Regions from separate parts of the Homo sapiens genome. Here regions 1 and 3 are each linked to region 2. Evidence: fine-mapped QTL for protein levels in blood plasma. A gene starts in region 2. Each other region holds a variant in brackets. All regions are shown on one strand. Distances are from middle to middle.

Region 1 (2,723 bases), 81 kb before region 2:
AAGTGGCTTCCACCAAGGAACTCCCCAAGCCATTCAGAAGTCCCAGGTGAGTGCCCCCATTTGCGTGTGTACTTTAAAATAAAATCCTAAAGCTCTTAGAATTTGAATGCATCTTAAGGACAACTTCACCTCTTAAATTCTTACATAGGTTGAATGGATCCCGATAAAGTTAACCTTTACAACTACTCTTTTTTTTTTTTTTTTTTTTTGAGATAAGAGTCTTGCTCTGTTGCCCAGGCTGGAGTGCAGCAGCACAATCTCGGCTCACTGCAACCTCCACCTTCTAGGTTCGAGCGGTTCTCCTGTCTCAGCCTCCCTAGTAGCCAGGACTACGGCGTGTGCCACCATGCCTGGCTAATTTTTTGTATTTTTAGTAGAGACAGGGTTTCACTGTGTTAGTCAGGATGGTCTCAATCTCCTGACCTCGTGATTCTCCCGCCTTGGTCACCCAAAGTGCTGGGATTACAGGCGTGAGCCACCGCTCCCAGCCACAACTACTCTTAAATAGGCAGTATTTTCTTATGCAGGCAAACATTCCTGTTTTAATCATCCTCCTATCACTAATTTAAATAACAGGTCCTGGCCTGGCGAGATGGCTCACGCCTGTAATCCCAGCACTCTGGGAGGCTGAGGCGGGTGGATCACCTGAGGTCAGGAGTTCGAGACCAGCCTGGCCAACATCGTGAAAACCCGTCTCTACTAAAAATACAAAAATTAGCCGGGCGTGGTGGCACGGGCCTGTAATTCCTGCTACTTGGGAGGCAGAGACAGGAGAATTGCTTGAATCCGGGAGGCAGAGGTTGCAGTGAGCCGAGATCGCACCACTGCCACTCCAGCCTAGGGGACAGAACGAGACTCCGTCTCAAAAAAAAAAAAAGGTCTGGGTTACCCTAACATATCAATTCATCCTCAATTTATTCTCTCCGTAGATTGTTTTTTAATAAAAACAAAACAAAGCATGATTCCTGGCATATGGGAATTTCAAAGGATAGCAACTGTGTGGAAAAGGTCTATTCCACTAAAACAGCATAAATGACGTATAAACCCAAGAAGCTGATGACTGCATATGAAACAACCAAACCAAGAAGCAAAATATGGTCTATGGAGCACAGTACTAACCCGGGAAAACAAGCTTTACTCCTGGCTCGATTATACACCTGCTGTATTTTAATTTTTAACTCAATGTTGAGCTTATTTAAATAAATAAAACATGCTACTTAACCACAATTTCAAAAGGAAAACAAAGTCACAAAAGAATGCAATAAATTACACAATTGGACTAACATATTAGATAATTAAAGGTGATTCTATTCCCAAGTCTAACTATCAATCAACGCTACTGCATTTAGTTACTCTATGCAATTTTATTGAGGAAGAGGGGTGGCAGGAATATTTTGCAGGGTTCCAAAAGGAGACATAGAAAGCGTGCCTACGAAGAGGACTGCAGTGAGGAGCTACACATTGAGATTACATACAGTGGACTGGACAACTTTGGTTAGGACCAGGCTGTTTAATTTCTTCATAAACTTAACATAGCTTCCTTCCTAAAAACAGGTTAATCCAGACTTTCTTCTCTCCAAAACAACCCGAACTGATACATTAACTGCTGCAATGAACTATATTAAGGCACTAGAATATTTACGGAAAAGCAAAAGACTCCCGCAATTCAACGGGATGCTTTTTAGTGAAGAAAGAAAACTTAAGGACCGAATAAATTTAAATATATGCCTTGTTTAACTTCCTTTCCCACCTATGAGGACTTGGTTTTTAAC[T/C]TTCCTAGTTGATCGAAACTCAAAGTATGAAGACTACGTATGCGAATGTTTACTTAACGCTGAACTCGGGGCTACAGGAAGTCTCCTACTAAACAGTAGTTACATTAGGCGTAGATATTTATAAACCATCTGCAGCAAGTGACCCAGGATTCAATTACAACATCAACCCTCATATTTCATCGCATGGGCAAATTACCAGTCGAGTCAAGAATAAACTCATTCTGCCCTACTGGCGCTCTAGATCGAGTTGCACAATCCTGGGGCAGAACCGCCTTCACCTAGCCCTAGAGCATCAGGTACTAAGTTAGTGTGAGGACATTTTAAAGCGGGAGGGAAACTCAAGGGACTTAGCCCATACTCCCAAATTCAGAAATTTGTCACGTCACTTGAGATCAGAATGAAATTTAAGTTTCAGTCCCTTTGAGATCTCTGAGCGCACAAAGTCAGGCTGCTATCACTCGGCTGGGGAGTCCGAACCCGGCTGGATAAAAACTACTTGGTGCGGAACTCGCATCTTTTCCGCCCACCGTGGGGGGGCCGCACCGGTCGGGTCCGGCCAGGAACCCGGGCGCGAGTTTGGGGGCGCAGCGGGGGCGGCGAGCGCGCGTCCCCCCGCCCGCTCAGGCAGCGTAGAGGTGCGAGCAGCTCAGCCAGCCTTGCAGAGGGAGCTCTCGGCAGCTCTGGGGTCCCTCTGCTCGCAGCCGCTGCAGCGCCGCCTGCGCCACTCGGCGGAGACGGAGACCAGCGGCGGCGACGCGCGGACTGGGAGCGACCGCCGAGCAGCCAAGCAGCTGGGAAGGCACGCAGGCCGGCAGGGTAGGTTCCGGGGACGGGGCTGGCTGGAGGAGGGGCAGCCCGAGACGCGACGGCCAGGGCCCGACACCCATACGGCACCGGGACCTGGCTTAGCGCGCGGCGGCAGTCGGTCCGAACCCTTAAGCTAGGCGGGCG
Region 2 (2,756 bases):
CAGCCTGGAGTGTGGTGATGCAGTCATAGCTCACTGCACTCTTGAATCCCTGTGCTCAAGCCATCCTCCCACCTCAGCCTCTACTACAGGCATGCACCACTACACCCAGCTATTTTTTTATTTTTTGTAGCAACGGGGTCTCACCATGATACCCAGGCTGGTCTTAAACCCCTGGCCTTGTGATCCTCCCACCTTGGCCTCTCAAAATGCTGGAATTACAGGTGTGAGCCACCATACCTGGCCCCCTTCATCTTTTTTCCACTGCCTTGTGCCAACCCAGTTTGTGCACTGGGGCCTTGCGATCCTCTCAAAGCTGATTCAGCCTGCATTCCTTTCCCAGATGGACACGTGTGTGATAAACAGCTCTGCAGTGGGGTGAGGGAAGGCAGGGGCAGCAGGGTCCTGTATGTCCTGCCATCTCCACAAAAGGGCAGTCCTTACCCCAGCCTTGTGCTGATGAGACCAGGCATAGACAGTCCTGACGACACAGGGCGGAAGGGAGCAGCCATTAGTGCTAATGAGGCAGGCGGCCTGAAAGCTTTGTACTCTGCAGTGGCTCGCCCACCCAGGGAACAGTTCGTTCTGTTTCCTTGGCTTCCAGGAACCCTAGGCAGAAAGGGGTTTGGGGACAGGAGCAGGAGTGGGCGGTCTTGGAGAAACCTGGAGGGAGAAAGGGAGGGGAGGACCAGAAATGTAGTCAGGAGGGCCTAGGATTGGTTAGGTGGGCTTTTCCTTCCCCTTTCCCTCCAAAGAAACCCAGGTTCTGGTTCTGCACCTACCCCTGCCCAACAGTGGCCATTGGCCCATCACCCGCTCCAATGTCCTTGACCCGAATTCTTGGAAGCACAGGAAACAACATGCCACATAGGGGTTGAGTAAGCATCTCTGGGGCCACAAATTAAATTAAGCTTTCAGGGCCGCCTGCCTTGTTATTGCTAATGGTTCTAGCCCTGCTCAGCTCCTAGGTCCCTGTCCTGTGGAAATTTGTGGACCCTGGGCACCCTCTCTTGCTCCCAAATTTTAATCGGCTCCTGGAAACCTCACCCCAAATTGGAGATAGGCACTCCTCTTGTAGAACAAAAGGCTCAGGTTCAGGGAGTGAGGGCCTGAACTGTGCCCCCACCCTCCAGGAAGGGTCCTTCACGGCCTGGCTGCAGGGATCAGTCACGTGTGGCCCTTCATTAGGCCCTGCCATATAAGCCAAGGGCACGGGGTGGCCGGGAACTCTCTAGGCAAGAATCCCGGAGGCAGAGGTGAGTCCTCAGGTTGGGCAGGGACTCCTCCTCTCTGTGGGGTCTCTATCTGGGCACCTAGAGGGGACTCCAAGGATAAGGAGGGACTAAGTGGTACATCTTCCTGCTGAGCCAGGCCATGCTGACCGCAGCGGTGCTGAGCTGTGCCCTGCTGCTGGCACTGCCTGCCACGCGAGGAGCCCAGATGGGCTTGGCCCCCATGGAGGGCATCAGAAGGCCTGACCAGGCCCTGCTCCCAGAGCTCCCAGGTCAGTGTGAGCAAGGGTGGGACTGGGCGGGGCCTGAATACCCTCTGGCCACAAATAGTCTCCCCTGGCATAAACCCTCTTTCTCCCTTCCCAAACCCTCCCCTGGGAGGTGGGTGCTTTGTGCATGGGGGTTCCTGCCCTCACATCCTCTGCCCCAGGCCTGGGCCTGCGGGCCCCACTGAAGAAGACAACTGCAGAACAGGCAGAAGAGGATCTGTTGCAGGAGGCTCAGGCCTTGGCAGAGGTAACTGCTCAGGGAAAAGGGTAAGGTGGTGGCCCTTGGGAGGGGGCATTGGGTATTAGCTCCTCTCCCCAGCTCCAAACTCCCTCACCAGCGACGACACTACCGACCACCCCTTCCCATGCTCCACTGCCATCCTGCACAGGTTGGGACAGGTAAGATCCCTGGATCTGTCTTTAGAGGCCTGTGCTGGTTCCCCACCCCTGCAGGTACTAGACCTGCAGGACCGCGAGCCCCGCTCCTCACGTCGCTGCGTAAGGCTGCATGAGTCCTGCCTGGGACAGCAGGTGCCTTGCTGTGACCCATGTGCCACGTGCTACTGCCGCTTCTTCAATGCCTTCTGCTACTGCCGCAAGCTGGGTACTGCCATGAATCCCTGCAGCCGCACCTAGCTGGCCAACGTCAGGGTCGGGGCTAGGGTAGGGGCAAGGAAACTCGAATAAAGGATGGGACCAACCCCAAGGCTGTGGTTATTTCAAACGTGGCCGTCAAAGGAGGGAGGGTTCATGGAGGGGGTGGGAGTGTCACCAAGCCAAGAAACCACACATACTCTTATCCCAGGGCCTGGGCTACCCTATCATAGGAGGCACATACACGGGCGCTTTTAGGGGTCCTGGTGCCCCTGGGAAAAATAGAGAAGAGCCGCACTCCAGCTTTCGAAAATCTTGTACAGCAAGTGCGGGGAACGCAGGACGCAGCGTGGCACAGGGGCTATCACTCCTGGCTAACAAATAAGCCTTAGGCTCCAGGGCTTGCTGCTACTTCCACGCAAAGCCTGCCCCTCATCCTGTTACCAGAGGGAAGGCCAGGAGTGTGCGTTGTTCAGGTCCTTAGCGTTTCGAACAAAGAATTGAACAAAACCCAGAAAGTAACAAACGAATGACACACAGGAAGGAAGCAGACAGCTGGGATTTGTTAAAGCGAGAAAGCACTACGCAGGGTGGGAGTGGGCCTGAGCAAGAGGCTGAAGGGGCTCAGTTACAAAGTTTTCCGGGTTTTAAGTACTCCTTTTGC
Region 3 (2,756 bases), 340 kb after region 2:
GCTACCAGCTATATCCAGCTCCCTGGGTCCATAGCACAGGGATACAGCAATGCCTCTGGGGTGGTCCTCTAAAAATATACAAGCACACCCCACTGTCTCCAATCCTTTTCAGTCTCCATTTTGTGACTCAAGAAGAGGGTCCTATGCTTTACAAAAGGGCAGCTCTCCAAACAGCTTAATCTGAATGATTTCCAAGGCCTCCATCTGTGGAACATGTTTCCCTCAGAAAAGAAGTCAACAGGTACCAGGGAACCTAGTGTTCCTGAGCAATCCTGGTTGCAGGCAAGGTCTACTTTGGAGTACCAGAGCCTATGCAAAACAACCCTGGGCAAAGACAGCTGGGGCTAGGTTCCCCAATGTCCAGGCATGGTTCCAGCTGCATGTGGACACACAGATCTGCAAAGATGCACTGCCCACCCCAATAGAAATGAAGGGCTTCTCTGAGGAATCACAACTTACCACTCCAAGAGTGAAGTAGTTAAAAAAGTAGTCATTACACTTCGATGGAACTTGTTTATGAGGGGAAGGAGAATGAATTTTCATCTGTAGGGAAAAAATAACCATAAATTAAAATCCATCCCTCTAATATAGTTCTGGATTAACTGAAAGTCTACAAATTGTGTTCCATGTGTAACATTAAGCTGCGGAACAAGCAAGAGTGGGGAGTCTCAGCTGCTGGTGCTGACCAATCTAGGAGGAGAGGGGGCCAGCTGTCGTTGACTAGGGACTGTCTTGGTCTCTAAGGAAAGGTAGGCACTATGGAGAGGGACAGAGTCAGGGTAATTGGACTACAGGGGTTAGAAAACAGTTTTCAATTTACTTTACCATTAGCTTTACTTAGAACAAGTTCTATGGGAAAATAGCAAACAGTTTATACTCAATATTAAATTAGTGTTGATTAAAAAAAAGGAGGAGACTGCAACATAATTCCCCTACCTTGTCTTCTGATTTATAGAAGACTTTGTGTGGAGAGCCAAGCATGCTAAGAACATCTTGGCAGGAATCACCAAAATACACTGAACGTTCAAATACCCGCATCTTGGCATCTGCTAATAGGCCAGGTCCACAACCTGCAAAAAACAAGACAGAGAGGTTGTCAGGTTATGGTTAGGACCAGAGACCCTCTCTGGGGGCCCCAGAGAAGCTACTGGCTGCATGCTACATTATTAGGTCTGGCAAGGGGCAAGACTGCATGCAATCAGAAACATCAGGTCACCAGGGCTTAAGACTGTACAAGAGATCGCTATTCAAAATAATGCCAGGGACTTATTCAATCCCCCACATGTGACATGAAGCTCTGGATACTTCATTCACTTATTCATTCACTACTTTATTGCCTACCATGGGCTAGGACATTGTGCTAGATGTTGAAGAAACAAAAGTGAACAAAAACAGTGCAGTTTCTGGCCAGACGTGGTGGCTCACGCCTATAATCCCAGCACTTTGGGAGGCCAAGGCGGATGGGTTGTTTGAGCTCAGAGTTTGACACCAGCCTGGGCAACATGGTGATACTC[C/T]GTCTCTACAAAAACATACAAAAATTAGCTGGGCATGGTGGTGGGTGTCTGTAGTCCCATCTACTTGGAAGGGTGAGGTGGGAGGATCACTTGAGCCCAGGAGGCAGAGGTTGCAGTGAGCCAAGATCACACCACTGCACTCTAGCCTGGGTGACAGACTGAGACAGTCTCAAAAAAAAAAAAAAAAAAAAAAAAAGGCAGTGCTGTTTTTTCTCCATAAGCTCCATCACTGGAGCTTATGTGTGCTGGAGAAGACCTTAATCAGATCATCACACAACTATGGTAAGATGCAAGGATTTATGTTAAGAGGTACTTCTTGGCCGGGTGTGGTGGCTCTTGCCTATGATCCCAGCACTTTGGGAGGCCAAGCGGGGTGAACTGCTTGAGCTCAGGCGTTCAAGACCAGCCTGGGCAACATGGTGAAACCCTGGCTCTACAAAATATAATATAAAAATTAGCCAGGCGTGGTGGCACACTCCTGCAGTCCTAGCTACTTGGGAGGCTAAGGTGGGAGGATCACTTGAGCCCAGGAGGCAGAGACTGCAGTGAGCTAAGATCACACCACTGCATTCCAGCCTGGGTGACAGAGTGAGACACTGTCTTAAAAAAAAACTACAAAAGTACTCTCAATGGTAACCCCTAACCAGAGACACTGAACCTGTAAAACTGCTCTATCAACAAGTAGAGTGAAGCATGCATTACTTGTCTCCCTAATTCTACACAAACACCTGACAGAGCCCTCCAACCCAGACAAGAGCCATTATCACTCAAAAGGGACAAACCAGCTAAGTGGAGGAATAAAAGACCTTCTGATTTGCCAAAAGTTTATTCTTTGGGAAGAATCTTTAAGCTCTGACTTTTTCTAATAAAACATTTCAGAAATGATTACAGTTAATGACACACACACAAACACACAAATGTAGAAGTGGTTGTGGCACAGTAATAGATACACCAACAGTAAAAATTTCCCCATTTTGTGGAGGGGGAGACAAGGTTTTTGCTCCCACCACCCAGCAAAAAAAAAAAGGAAGCCAAGAATCTGAGAAGGATTGTAATTCTTGGTGCCATGATAATCACTGACACCATCTTACTCAGCACAAGGCTTTACAGTTGTCAAAGTTCTCTCATGTGTAACAATCCATTTTTTATATGCAGAAGCTTCAGAGAACCCAAATCTGAAATAACTAAATACTGAGTTCAACTAACCCAAGAATCTCTATTCTCAGCAAGTATACACTGAGG

Direction of the effects. Positions count from the first base shown, and alleles are read on the strand shown. Strength reflects both the effect of a copy and how common the allele is.
For the plasma level of the protein whose gene starts at base 1,223 in region 2, allele C in region 1 goes with a lower level than allele T (weak association).
In carriers of allele C in region 3, the plasma level of the protein whose gene starts at base 1,223 in region 2 tends to be higher than with T alone (weak association).

The links. PIP is the chance, under the fine-mapping model, that this variant and not a neighbour inherited with it causes the effect. Protein levels are from antibody-based Olink assays in UK Biobank. Linkage for the fine-mapping came from a reference panel and not from the study's own genotypes, which makes the PIPs less certain.
Region 1: its variant is fine-mapped to the plasma level of the AGRP protein (UK Biobank, PIP 0.93).
Region 3: its variant is fine-mapped to the plasma level of the AGRP protein (UK Biobank, PIP 0.90).

What each region holds. Positions count from the first base shown.
Region 1 is chr16:67,563,160-67,565,882 of GRCh38, reverse strand. All of the region lies in intron 1 of CTCF (CCCTC-binding factor), which reads right to left. LOC124903703 (a long non-coding RNA gene) reads left to right here and starts at 2,433. Exons shown (of 2, transcript XR_007065094.1): 1 at 2,433-2,588. RefSeq lists a silencer at 2,286-2,385 and an enhancer at 2,139-2,723. The variant T/C (reference allele first, on the strand shown) is at 1,773.
Region 2 is chr16:67,482,014-67,484,769 of GRCh38, reverse strand. It overlaps AGRP (agouti related neuropeptide), which reads left to right and starts at 1,223. Exons shown (of 4, transcript NM_001138.2): 1 at 1,223-1,253; 2 at 1,369-1,501; 3 at 1,660-1,745; 4 at 1,952-2,199. The coding sequence starts at 1,372. The coding sequence ends at 2,134. It overlaps ATP6V0D1-DT (ATP6V0D1 divergent transcript), which reads right to left. Exons shown (of 4, transcript NR_184227.1): 2 at 442-660.
Region 3 is chr16:67,138,298-67,141,053 of GRCh38, reverse strand. It overlaps PHAF1 (phagophore assembly factor 1), which reads right to left. Exons shown (of 16, transcript NM_025187.5): 9 at 937-1,070; 10 at 460-543. Among named protein-coding and RNA genes, the nearest start is that of B3GNT9, 11 kb to the left of the region's middle. The variant C/T (reference allele first, on the strand shown) is at 1,515.